4 separate regions of the Homo sapiens genome follow, and all the other regions are reported to be linked to region 1. Evidence: microRNA targets listed by miRTarBase, many of them from high-throughput screens and not tested one by one. Region 1 holds a microRNA gene; each other region holds the end of a gene's coding sequence.
Evidence for each region. The annotated mature microRNA hsa-miR-4793-3p reads UCUGCACUGUGAGUUGGCUGGCU and lies in region 1 at 1,836-1,858, shown strand. An mRNA with a match to its seed (bases 2 to 7 or 8) in the 3' UTR can be bound and repressed. Matches are read on the target gene's strand: a 7mer-m8 pairs with bases 2 to 8, a 7mer-A1 pairs with bases 2 to 7 and ends in A, and an 8mer does both.

Region 2: the mRNA of ZDHHC24 is a reported target of hsa-miR-4793-3p. Seed matches in the 3' UTR shown: 8mer at 384-391, 7mer-m8 at 1,201-1,207 and 7mer-m8 at 1,831-1,837.
Region 3: miRTarBase lists RGS9BP as a target of hsa-miR-4793-3p. The part of its 3' UTR that is shown has no 7-base or 8-base seed match.
Region 4: the mRNA of ARL5A is a reported target of hsa-miR-4793-3p. The part of its 3' UTR that is shown has no 7-base or 8-base seed match.

Annotation. Positions count from the first base shown.
Region 1 is chr3:48,642,952-48,646,058 of GRCh38, reverse strand. It overlaps MIR4793 (microRNA 4793), which reads left to right and starts at 1,779; the gene lies at 1,779-1,865. CELSR3 (cadherin EGF LAG seven-pass G-type receptor 3) reads left to right here. Exons shown (of 35, transcript NM_001407.3): 23 at 191-317; 24 at 410-616; 25 at 850-1,024; 26 at 1,231-1,343; 27 at 1,764-1,843; 28 at 2,382-2,505; 29 at 2,976-3,092.
Region 2 is chr11:66,536,619-66,539,725 of GRCh38, reverse strand. It overlaps ZDHHC24 (zDHHC palmitoyltransferase 24), which reads left to right. Exons shown (of 3, transcript NM_207340.3): 3 at 1-3,107. The coding sequence ends at 197. Among named protein-coding and RNA genes, the nearest start is that of ZDHHC24, 7.9 kb to the left of the region's middle. RefSeq lists an enhancer at 1-126.
Region 3 is chr19:32,676,782-32,679,781 of GRCh38, forward strand. It overlaps RGS9BP (regulator of G protein signaling 9 binding protein), which reads left to right. Exons shown (of 1, transcript NM_207391.3): 1 at 1-1,519. The coding sequence ends at 190. Among named protein-coding and RNA genes, the nearest start is that of RGS9BP, 2.4 kb to the left of the region's middle.
Region 4 is chr2:151,800,567-151,803,673 of GRCh38, forward strand. It overlaps ARL5A (ARF like GTPase 5A), which reads right to left. Exons shown (of 6, transcript NM_012097.4): 6 at 1-2,758. The coding sequence ends at 2,710. Among named protein-coding and RNA genes, the nearest start is that of ARL5A, 26 kb to the right of the region's middle.

The DNA of each region.
Region 1 (3,107 bases):
CCGTTAGCCCTTGGGAGGCCAACTAATAGTCCCAGCCTTCCCCTGGGGCCCCCACTAGTGCTGTTGTGCAACCCGGACCATGAGGAATGCTGTACCCCAACTCCAGGCACCCTCAGCCCTTCCCATGATCTCTCACAAACCCCTGCCTGACACTGGGTCACAGTTGTGTCTAACTGCCCTGTGGCTGCAGGGCGGAGCAGCATGGTGTGTGGACAGCACGGGACTGCGAGCTGGTGCACAGGAATGGGTCCCACGCACGGTGTCGCTGCAGCCGGACAGGGACCTTTGGGGTCCTCATGGATGCCTCTCCCCGTGAGGTGGGGCTGTGTTCAGTGTCCCAAGGAAGTGGGGGGTCAAAGGGACACGGGGATTCTGCCCAACAACCCATCAACCATCCCTGTCTCTGTAGAGGCTGGAGGGCGACCTGGAGCTGCTGGCTGTGTTCACCCACGTGGTCGTGGCTGTGTCTGTGGCTGCGCTGGTGCTGACTGCAGCCATCCTGCTGAGCCTGCGCAGCCTCAAGTCCAATGTGCGTGGGATCCATGCCAATGTGGCAGCCGCCCTGGGGGTGGCAGAGCTCCTCTTCCTGCTGGGGATTCACAGGACCCACAATCAGGTGCAGGATCAGGGCCAGGGAACTTGTGTCCTGATGACCCTACTGGCCCAGGAGGCCTGGGGCCAAAACTCAGGGTCAGAGGTCAGGGATGCTCAGGTTGGGGCCAGGGTTTTCAGCAGGATGCTGGGGTAAGATATTGTGGTTTAGGGGTGAGAGGTGGGAAGCAGATGCCTGGGGTAGGGGTCAGAGGTGGGTGAGGCAGGAGAGGTCCTGACACGCCCCCCTGCCCTCAGCTGGTGTGCACTGCAGTCGCCATCCTCCTGCACTACTTCTTCCTCAGCACCTTCGCGTGGCTCTTCGTGCAGGGGCTGCACCTCTACCGCATGCAGGTTGAGCCACGCAACGTGGACCGCGGCGCCATGCGCTTCTACCATGCCCTGGGCTGGGGCGTCCCTGCTGTGCTGCTGGGTGAGGGCTGTGACCCCCAACCTCCAACCATCACATGGCCTGACCCCTGACCCTGTCCCCACTCCTGCTCATGACCCCCAACCTCAAACCCCAAGCCATCTATTCATGGGGTTGCTGCTCTGCCCTCACCCATGCTTTCTCCCATACATGGGCTGGTCAGCAGCTCTGGAACACACACCCTCAGTCCTACCCTTTCTCTTCCCAAGGCCTTGCTGTGGGCCTGGACCCTGAGGGCTATGGGAACCCTGACTTCTGCTGGATCTCAGTCCACGAGCCCCTCATCTGGAGCTTTGCTGGCCCTGTTGTCCTGGTCATAGTGGTGAGTGCCCTGGACTTGGTGCCCCCTCTGTACTTCCCTCCCTCATTGGGGGAGGAGGTGCAGTGGACTCAGCTGAGGGCGGTCAGGTGGCATTCTGCAGGCTTCCTGGGCTCGGCCTTCATTTTTTCTGTCCTCTGGTCAGTAGCCACCCCCATTCAACTGGCATGGAGATGGGGGCGCGGGGTCAGAGATTCAGTTGCCTGTCCCTGCCTCTGTCTCTGCTTCTCTCTCTCAGTCCCTCTCTGGTTCCCAATTTCTTTTTCTGTGATGCTAAGCTCCTTTGGTGTGTGTGTATATGTGTGAATTTCTCACTGGTTCTGCCTCTCTCCGTGAATCTTAGTCTCTCTCTGTCTCTCATTGCCTCTCTCTCTCTCTCTCTCTCTGCCCTGCCCGGCCCCACATGTCTGGCCGTGGGTCCAGATGAACGGGACCATGTTTCTCCTCGCTGCCCGCACATCCTGCTCCACAGGGCAGAGGGAGGCCAAGAAGACCTCTGCACTGTGAGTTGGCTGGCTGGAGGAAGGGGGCTTCTCAGGATGGCAGGTCCCTCCTGGGTGGGGTCTGGGGCCCCCAGATCTTCCCTGGTGCAGGTTGGGCTCCAAGTTCTAGATGAAGGAATGAAGTCACACCTGCCCTGACCTGTGGTCCCTCTCTGGCGCCCTCGCTATACTGTAGCCCCACATGTGCTTCTGCCCTGCTGTCTCTCCTTGTCCTCTGGGTCCCCCCAGAGTCTCCCATGGCCTGGGTGGCTCACTTTGCCCCCTGCCCTGTGTGTTCCCACCTGTCTTCCGTGCCCTCCCTTGTGGCTCCCATACCCCTGTGTTTTCCCCACGTGTCCTCATGGCTCTTTGACTGCTCTCCTGTTTCTTTGTGGGACCTCCCATCTCCCCCAGTGTCCTCCAGAGACCTCCATGTTCCCGTGTGAGTTCCTTTTTTTCACGTTTCGTGTGTGGCCCCTGTGTGTCCTCCCGTGTTCCCTGCATGAGTCCTACATGAGCCTTGCATGTCCTCCTGTGTCTTCCCATGTCCCCACAGCAGGACCCTTCGCAGCTCCTTCCTGCTGCTTCTGCTGGTCAGTGCCTCCTGGCTCTTTGGGCTCCTGGCAGTCAACCACAGCATCCTAGCCTTCCACTACCTCCATGCTGGACTCTGCGGCCTCCAGGTGACTCTGGTGCCCCTCCCTTGCCCCAGAACCAGGTGGGCCTTCAGTAGGCTGGGGCCATCCCTAGGCAGACGTTGACCCTAGGCCTGGAGCTGACTCTTACTGGATAACTTTGCCAGGCTGGGTACTACCCCAGACCAGACACTGGCCCTAGCTGCTGCCCCCAGGCCTGGAGCTGACTCTAACTTAGGCACTGATCCCAGACTGAGTGCTGATCTTGGATCGACCTTCACCAACACCAAGGCTCCCGACCCCTTGCTGATCCACACCGACCTTACAGACTCCAGCCACTCCTGCTGCTCCATCCTCTCCCCTGCTGACCTTCCCCAACTCCCTTACTGAGTCCCGCATGGGCTCCTCACTGACCCACACTAGCCTACAGTGACTGACCCCATTGCTGACCCACAGTGACTTATACTGGTCCCTGATTGATCCCTGCCGACTCTGCTTTGACCCTCGCTGACCCACAGGGCCTGGCGGTGCTGCTGCTCTTCTGTGTCCTAAATGCAGATGCTCGGGCTGCCTGGATGCCAGCCTGTCTGGGCAGGAAGGCAGCGCCTGAGGAGGCAAGGCCAGCACCTGGGCTGGTGAGTCGGGATGGG
Region 2 (3,107 bases), not on the chromosome of region 1:
TGCTGCTGCGGGGCCAGACCACATGGGAGTGGGCTCGGGGCCAGCACTCCTATGACCTGGGTCCCTGCCACAACCTGCAGGCAGCCCTGGGGCCCCGCTGGGCCCTCGTCTGGCTCTGGCCCTTCCTGGCCTCCCCATTGCCTGGGGATGGGATCACCTTCCAGACCACAGCAGATGTGGGACACACAGCCTCCTGACTCCAGGAAGAGCCAGAGCTGTGCAGGGAGGAAGGGGTGAGAGGGGGGCCCCCACACCTAGACTCAGTAAGGAAGTCGGGTTGGACCTTAACATCTGCATTGGACAACTCCACCCCTTCCTTGGCCTTGCCCCTGCCCGCCTACACTCCTACGTGTCCAGGGCTTGGGCCGTGACTTAGGCAGAGGAGTGCAGAGGAGGGTCTGGCAGGGGCTGCTCAGGCCGCCTAGCTGCCCCTTTGCCAGGTTAATAAAGCACTGACTTGTTTCTCAGCCTCCCTCCATCTTTGCATAGTTTCTGGCCCCTCACTTTGTTGCTGGGGCTGTTTCTGGGACCCTCTGTAGGGCCTGGAAACTGCAGGATGCCTGAGGGTCTCAGGGGCTGGGGCTCTACCTCCCCTGGCCTGGGTGAGTTGGGGGTGGGGCACCAGCACGCCAAGGCAGTGTCCTACTGATCCAGGCTATGAGAATCCAAACATTCTTTCCCAGGTTTGGCATTTTATAGTTAGAAGCATTTCTGCAACAGCAGTTTCATGGAACCTCTCTTAGCTAACCTGGTCCATGGGGCAGCAGTTACGCTCTAAGAATCCATGTGGTAAGATCATGGTGCGGCAAATGGAGGCAGGGTCCAACCCAGGTCTTTGTGCTTTTGCCTTTACCCTTGCACAGCTGGAGGAAATGAGTAGGAAAGAAATCAAGGTAAAGAAATGCGCTGGGGCTGTTTGGGCATCTGTGGAGGGTGGTGCTGACAGGGCTAGGCCTGCACCTCTCTGGCCTCCTCAAGAGCTGCTTGTTAAATGTTTCCGTGTAAATAGAATGAATAGAGACCGCCATTTCCACATGGCAGGCCTAAACACATGTGTTCGTCTCAGTTTTCTCTTAGGATCTCTCTAAGATGATAGTAAAGAAAATCAAAAATAATACAAAGGGAAAGAAAACAGGAGGGAAGACAGTAGAACACAGAGCCTGACCACATTTTCTTTTTTCTCTCTGTTGCCGGGGCTGGAGTGCAGTGGCACGATCTCGGTTCACTGTAACCTCCACCTCCCGGGTTCAAGTGATTCGGCCTCCCGAGTTGCTGGGATTACAGACACCCGCCACTATGCCCGGCTGATTTTTTTTTTTTTCTTTTTTGAGACGGAGTTTTGCTCTTGTTGCTCAGGCAGGAGTGCAATGGCGTGATCTCGGCTCACTGCAACCTCCGCCTCCTGGGTTCAAGCGATTCTCCTGCCTCAGCCTCCCGAGTAGCTGGGATTACAGGTGCCCGCCACCATTCCTGGCTAATTTTTGTATTTTTAGTAGAGACGGGGGTTTCACCATGTTGGCCAGGCAGGTCTCAAACTCGTGACCTTGTGATCCGCCCGCCTTGGCCTCCCGAAGTGCTGGAATTACAGGTGTGAGCCATTGCGCCTGGCCATGCCCAGCTAATTTTTTTGTATTTTTAGTATAGACAGGGTTTCACCATGTTGGCCAGGCTGAACTTGAATTCCTGGCACCTGCCTCCACCTCCGTCTCCCAAAGTGCTAGGATTACAGGCGTGAGCTACCGTGCCTGGCTGACAATTTTTTATTATTTTATTTTATTTTATTTTATTTTATTTTATTTGAGACAGACTCTTGTTCTGTTGCCAGGCTGGAGTGCAGTGGCACGATCTCGGCTCACTGCAAGCTCCGCCTTCTGGGTTCACGCCATTCTCCTGCCTCAGCCTCTCAAGTAGCTGGGACTACAGGTGCCTGCCACCACGCCAAGCTAATTTTTTGTATTTTTAGTAGAGACGAGGTTTCACCGTGTTAGCCAGGATGGTCTCGATCTCCTGACCTTGTGATCCACCTGCCTCGGCCTCCCAAAGTGCTGGGATTACAGGTGTGAGCCACCACTCCTGGCCGGCCAGGATGGTCTTGATCTACTGACCTCGTGATCTGCCCGCCTTGGCCTCCCAAAGTGCTGGGATTACAGGTGTGAGCCACCGTGCCCGGCCGCCTGGCTGACATTTTCAAAGATGGAAAGTGGATGGAGAATTAAGAGCTGAAATTATGTGTTCCCAAAAGGTGGGGCCAAAAGGCAAGTGGAATTACCTGCCAGAGCCCCGGAGGGGCTCAGGAACTCCACCAGGACCATGGAGGGTGAGGTGAGGCTTCGGCCAACAATGGGGACCGATGGAAAGTCTATGTAAGGATCAGTGGGGTGCCGCTCCCCCACATCCCACCCACACCCCACCCACATCATGCAGCCAGCAGCTACACCTCTGGGTGGGGTGGTGTGACGTGAGGATTATTTGAAGGATAAATGGAACCAGAGAAGCTTCGGGTCTTAGGCGTACTGGGGAGGGGTGGGTGAGAGGCTAGACCAAAAAATGGGGTTAAGTGAAAGTCCATAGATACTGCTGGGGGGCCTCCCATGAAAGAACATGCTTGACCCCCAAGAACCTTCAGAGAAACCCACCCTCTGACAGGCTCTGCCCATGCCCACAAAGATCTGAGCTGCTTGGCTGGTTGTTTTTGTAACAGGCATGCTCTGTTGCTATTTTTTAATGACAGGAGGAACTTGGTGTACCTGGCACTTTGGGCTGCACAGACGCATTAGCAGACTCACCTTGTCCTGTTTCATCCCTCGCCCTCCACAATTTCTTATTTTCTTTCTTTCTCTTTTTATTTTTTGAGACAGAGTTTCACTCTTGTTACCCAGGCTGGAGTGCAATGATGCGATCTTGGTTCACCGAAACCTCCGCCTCCCGGGTTCAAGCGATTCTCCTGCTGCAGCCTCTCGGTAGCTGGGATTACAGGCATGTGCCACCATGCCCGGCTAATTGTTTTTGTATTTTTAGTAGAGACGGGGTTTCTCCATGTTGGTCAGGCTGGTCTGGAACTCCTGACCTCAGGTGATCCACCTGCCTCGGCCTCCCAAAGTGCCGGG
Region 3 (3,000 bases), not on the chromosome of region 1:
GACCGTGCAAGCCCGGCAGGCGGCGGGCGCCGAGCTCCTGTCCACGGTCAGCGCCGGCCCCTCCTCGGTCGTGTCCTTGCAGGAGCGCGGGGGGGGTTGCGACCCCAGGAAGGCCCTGGCCGCCATCCTTTTCGGCGCCGTGCTGCTGGCGGCTGTGGCCCTAGCCGTGTGCGTGGCGAAGCTGAGCTGACGGACACCCGACGGCCGCCTGCTGCTGCCGCTCCCTCCCCTGAGAAAAGACTCGGGATGGGTGTGGGGTCTGGCCTGTGCAAGGGGAGTGGTCCTAAAACCCCGTGTGTGCATGGGTACACGCGCGTTTCCAGTGCACATCTGCCTGGGCAGGACACGGTTTCCTCTTGCTGGCCCGGGAGGAGTTAACTTTGCGCCGGCCGTCAGGGCATTACCGCTAACGTCTGCAGGAGCTTTATTCCCTATTAATAGAAAACCGTCACAGTGACCCTAGATCCCTCCGAGTTAATGAGTTAACACATGTGCTGTTGGGGCGTCTTTACAGGGAGTCCGAGTTCGGTGCCCACCCCTGCCAGCGTCGCCCCCTTTCTGCGTGGGACAGTTTGAAAAGGTGGGTGGGGTGGAGTGAAGTTTGGAGAGGGACGCTGTTTGGTTCTATGTGGTTGGTCTGTTTCCCGGACAAGAAAAATTGCAATCAAATGTCAGCAGCTTTTATTACCTTAATCTTTCAGGGCCTAAATTTAGGAGAGTGTCCCGAGAGCAGTTCATACAAAGGGCTTTCTCTAAGACGCGCTACAGCCCTTCCTAGCAGAGTTTATCCATTCGTCCCCAAGAGCAGCTAGAAGAGATTTGAGGTCATGACCTCCCACTGCCGCTCAGGGGCTGACCCTATTTAGGAAACCAAAGAGGGTGGGTTGAACCTACTCTCACGGACTTGGATCCAGTGCGCACACTTGCCTGCGGAAAAGGGCTCTCCCCAGCCACCCGGAGATGGGGGTAAGAGGAAGAGCAGAGGCTTGGGGTAGGGCCACCTGGTGTTTAAACAGGCACTTTCTCCTTCTCTGGGGCTTATTTTTGTTCAGAACTAGACCAGAGTGTTTGAACCTCCTTTGCAGGAGGGCTGGGAATCCTCTTTAGAGCACTTAATCCTATTTATCCCCTGGAATGTGCGTGCTGGCCAGTAGGAGGGCTGGCTTTGGCAGCTCCCTGACCCCCGCGCTGCCCGCCCCTCCGGGGTAATGTGGCATTACTGGCCCACAGAGGTTTTGAGCCAATCAGCTCTGAGACTGGGTTAGAATGTAACAGCTTTAACTTGGGATTTAAGAAGCTTTTAAAAGGTAATAATACTCTGAAAGAAAAATGACGTAACCACAGCGTGTACTATGAAAGCTGTTATTTTAATAAAGAACGCTGGGCCATGAACTCATACCTGCCAATGAGTCAAACATAGTATCTTTATGTAGATACTTAGATTACTAAATATATATTTCATCTACTTCTGAAGTTGATAGTCTTCCCCCCCCCCCACTTTTTTCTTTTTTGAGACAGGGTCTCCCTCTGTCACCCAGGCTGGAGTGCAATGGTGTGATTGTGGCTCACTGCAGCCTCCAAATCTCGGGCTCAAACTATCCTCCTACTTCAGCCTCCTGAGTAGCTGGAACTACAGGTGTGTGCCACCGCACCTGGCTAATGTTTTTAAGGCAGTTAATTTATTTATTTATTTTTATTTTTCTTTAGAGATAGGATCTTGTGGTGTCGCCCAGGCTGGAGTGCAGGGGCGCAATCAGCAAACCACAGCCTTGAACTCCTGGGCTCAAGCTCTCCTCCCACCTCACCCTCCCAAGTAGCTGGGACTAAAGGTGTGCATCACGGCACTCAACTAATTTTTTGTAGAGACAGAGTTGGGCTATGTTGCCCAGGCTGGTCTCAAACTCCTGGCCTCAAGTGGTCCTCCCACCTAGGCCTCCCAAAGTACTGGGACTACAGGCATAAGCTACTATGCTCAGTCTAAAATCAATATTCTTTATTTTTTTCTATAATTTCACTGCAAAATAAAATCTATATTCTTGAGTAGCCACACAAGTGTAAATGACAGAATGTTAAGTGGCCTTTAATTCTTTTGATCAACAAGTAAGAAAATGCTTGGTCCTTGGTCCCAGGATGACATCTGCCTGAGCAGTGCTGCCAAATCCTGCCTGTGGTCCAGAGAGAGCTCTGTCCCATTCTTGGGTAAGTTAGGCTGTAAAAACAGATGCATTTAACTTTCTTTTCTTTTTCTTTTTTTTTTTTTTTTTTGAGATGGAATTTTACTCTTGTTGCCCGGACTGGAGTGCAGTGGCGTGATCTGGGCTCACTGCAACCTCTGCCTCCTGGGTTCAAGCAGTTCTCCTGCCTCAGCCTCCCGAGTAGCTGGGATTACAGGCGATTGCCACCATGCCCGGCTAATTTTTGTATTTTTGGTAGAGATGGGGTTTCACTATGTTGGCCAGGCTGGTCTTGAACTCCTGAACTCAGGTGATCTGCCCACGTCAGCCTCCCAAAGTGCTGGGATTACAGGCGTGAGCCACCTCGCCAGGCCACATTTAACTTTCTAAAGGTAATTTGCAATAAATTCCAGAGACTTTGGCTGAAAACTGACAAGGATTTTTTTTTTAATTCTTTTTTACCCCAGAAGTGAGAACAGGGGTGACCAGGGGAAAGGAATTGGCCATTTTTCACATGGGCCGCTTGGAGGACCAAGGGGCAGAGGTGGATAGCAGAAGGGATGCTGTCAGGACACCCAGACTTAAGATTCACTCTCCCCCCAACCCCCCACTATTCCTCAGGAGGACCAAGAGATTCCAGCAGCTCAGATAGGGCAAATGTAGGATCTGTGTTTGTGTCTGTGATCATGCTTTTAAAAGACCCACAAGGTCTTAAGCTGATTAAATGTTTTGCAATTACTTTTTTTTTTTTTTTTTTTTTTTAAGATACTGGGTCTCTATGTTACCGGGGCTAGAGTACAGTGTCACAATCATAGCTCACTGAAGC
Region 4 (3,107 bases), not on the chromosome of region 1:
TTCCCCACTATAACCCCTATACAACCTGCCTTCGTTGTATCCTTTGCCCATTATGAGGACCAAGAGGTACTGGGAAGATAAAGAGAACTGAAAATTTCAAACAAGAACCCTCTATATAATGTGTAAGATGTACTTTTACAGATGCTATTATGATAAAATTAAACATATTCAAATGCTTATAGCATATGGTTACTTTTGCCCAGATATCAAAAGAAGTTACATGACTTTCAAAATTAGTATCAAAAACAGGATATTTAAATCCAGCCACATGTACAGAACTATGAATCTTTGTTCTTCTCAGAGCTGAACACAATGACTCCACGAGATGTTTTCACTCAGAAGTGGCATATTAAAAACCCAAAAGCATCTCCCTCTGCTTAATTCCACTTAAACTACATAAAAATTGCCAATATGACTTTTCACCAGCTTCTCCATTTTATTTGAAAATAATACTTTTAAAATGATTTTGACATTTTCATATATAAATTTATTTTTTTCCCAACTATAATTTTGGTTTTATGTACAAGTACACAAGTACCACCTTATTTTTAATGTTTACCTTGAAGGGTAGAAAACAAAATCATGTTTTATAAATGTGGTATAAAATTACACATCTTCTCATGATGTCATGTCAATAATCCACTACACTAAACCAACTGTAACAAGGTAGTACATGCTTTAAACATCCAATTAAGAATAAATCTGAGCCAACACCTTGATGATGACAAGGGAATGTGCTGATATCGTGTTAAACTGATGTGGCAGTAATCCAAGGGACTAAGCACATGATTATTCAAATTAAAACATAAAAAGGACAAAAGGTGTGGATTTTCTGGGCTACATCACATAATATTTGTCTGGCGAAACCATAATACAGATTTGGGTAAAGGAGATTTTTAATAGATAACAAGTAATTCTTTATAGGGATTTGAGAAAGTACGAGAACATATGGGAAAAGCTTAGTAATTTAAGATTTACTTTTGTAAAACCATGTGGACAAATATTAAATGTTATGCTTGCATTTTGAACATTATAAATATAAAACATAAAACATCCAATGTTAAATACTGATATCCCATGCCTGACCTGGATTTAGATATTGAGTATTTCCCATTTTAAAGAAAGAAACTTTCAAAGTTTTGTCAATACTTAAACTATATACTATTATTCCTCACCAAAATCTTCATGAAATTTAAAAGGCTGATATTGAAGGTAGTTTTTTTTTCTCAAATATGCTAAAACATGTGAGTTTGGATTAACCTTCAGATTTTCAAGGCATGAAAGATACATAAATAGAGTACCCAAGAATATGTTTTAACACATTTAGGATAAGTTTGTTTACAGTTGTGACAGGAATACCTTTGACTTTCAGACACTGAAAAAATATACCCTAAGCAAACATAAAAGGTGTTTTGGGTCAAGTTACTTCTTAGTACAAATAATACGTTGTATCAATCAATTTTTAAGCCAAATTCTTAAAATCATTCAAAAAACACTTGCATTTTATAATTGTCAATGCATTTATGTAATAGAAGATACAACAAAATTTAGAAATAAAAAATCTCACACTATATTCCAAGTACCAAAATAAGAAGAAATTTGCAAATTAAGAAATTATCAATGTTGCTCAGAAACATGCCTTACTTTTACTCTGAAATTCACTTTAACTGCTTGACATATAATTTAATACTTAAAAATAATATAGCTAAGTTGTTTAATAGTATTTATAGAATGCTACTTTTCTGGGTAGACATGTTTCACAAAACAGTTTTCAATTAATGCTGAGCATTCATTTGATAATTGTAATCATAATTTGATTCACTGATTAATGGATTAATAATTTATTCAGTAATTTAGATGCCATAAGAACCACTGAAAGGAATAATCTGATAGTTGCTCATTGTACAATCCTGCCTATTAGTAATACTAAGCCAAGAATCTGCTAGCTTTCCCACTCTGTTGAATTACATGTTTCCATGTGTGTGATTTTGGTCAACAACAAAAAATCGATACACAATGTCATGCTTTTTCCTTTTCCTTTTTTTTTTTTTTAAACAAGCAGCTCAGCGATTTGGGAGGTTGGTTAGTACAATACAGAGAACACAGAGAGAAAGTATAAAATGGCACTGAACACTAATGCCAATACTTATCTCATTGTGGTTATAACGAAGGATATTATTATTTGTGTTATTTTTGTCTGGAACATAAATCAATGCCATTAACTTGAACTTGAGGTATATACACAATACACACACAACCTTAAGCAAAATACTTTTCATAAGTAACATTACATTTTAAAATATTGGAAACATTCGAATATCTGTGCTGATTTGTATTCTGACTTAATGGAACAAGAAGAAAATAACATTCAACTAGGGAGGGTTAAACTGATAATAAAGCTCTTAAAATTCAAAATGTCTTCCTCTCCCTTTGTACTTACCATAGGCTACACAATGTCCTGAGAGGATTCATTATGAGAAAAATGTCAATCACAGCTTCAATAACTTACTTTGGAAAAAACTAATGAGAAAGCAAACTGGAAGGTGAGACTTCATCTTTGTTTTCAAATAAGTGGTCTTAATTTTTCTTCTTATAGAAAAAGTTTAAATCAGTTTATTATAAATATATCTAAACCATTAATTTTTGCAGCTTTCAGGTAAAGTCCAGCACTTCATTTATACAAAATCTATGAGAAGAGGTCAGTAGAGATCATCTAATCTTAAGTCGTGACATCATCCATTCAAGTCCTTGGCACAATCTATAAAGAAAACAAAATCATTTGATTAAATTCTGAACTAAGAAGCTATGAGCAGCAAACTATGAACAGCAAACTAAAAGAGAGCATTTTTCATTTAGCTAAATAACAAAGATTTAAAAATCAATAATATTCAGTGCTTGGGCTGCTGCAGTGAAGCCATATTCTCATACACAATACATCTGTGCTTTTTTTGTCTTTCCTCTTTTTTAGACAGGGTCTCACTCTGTCACCCAGGCTGGAGTGCAATGGCACAATCAATGGCAGCCGTGACCTCCTGGGCTCAAGCGATCTCCCCACCTCAGCTTCCCCAGCAGCAGGGACTACAGGCGTGTGCCACCACACCCAGCTA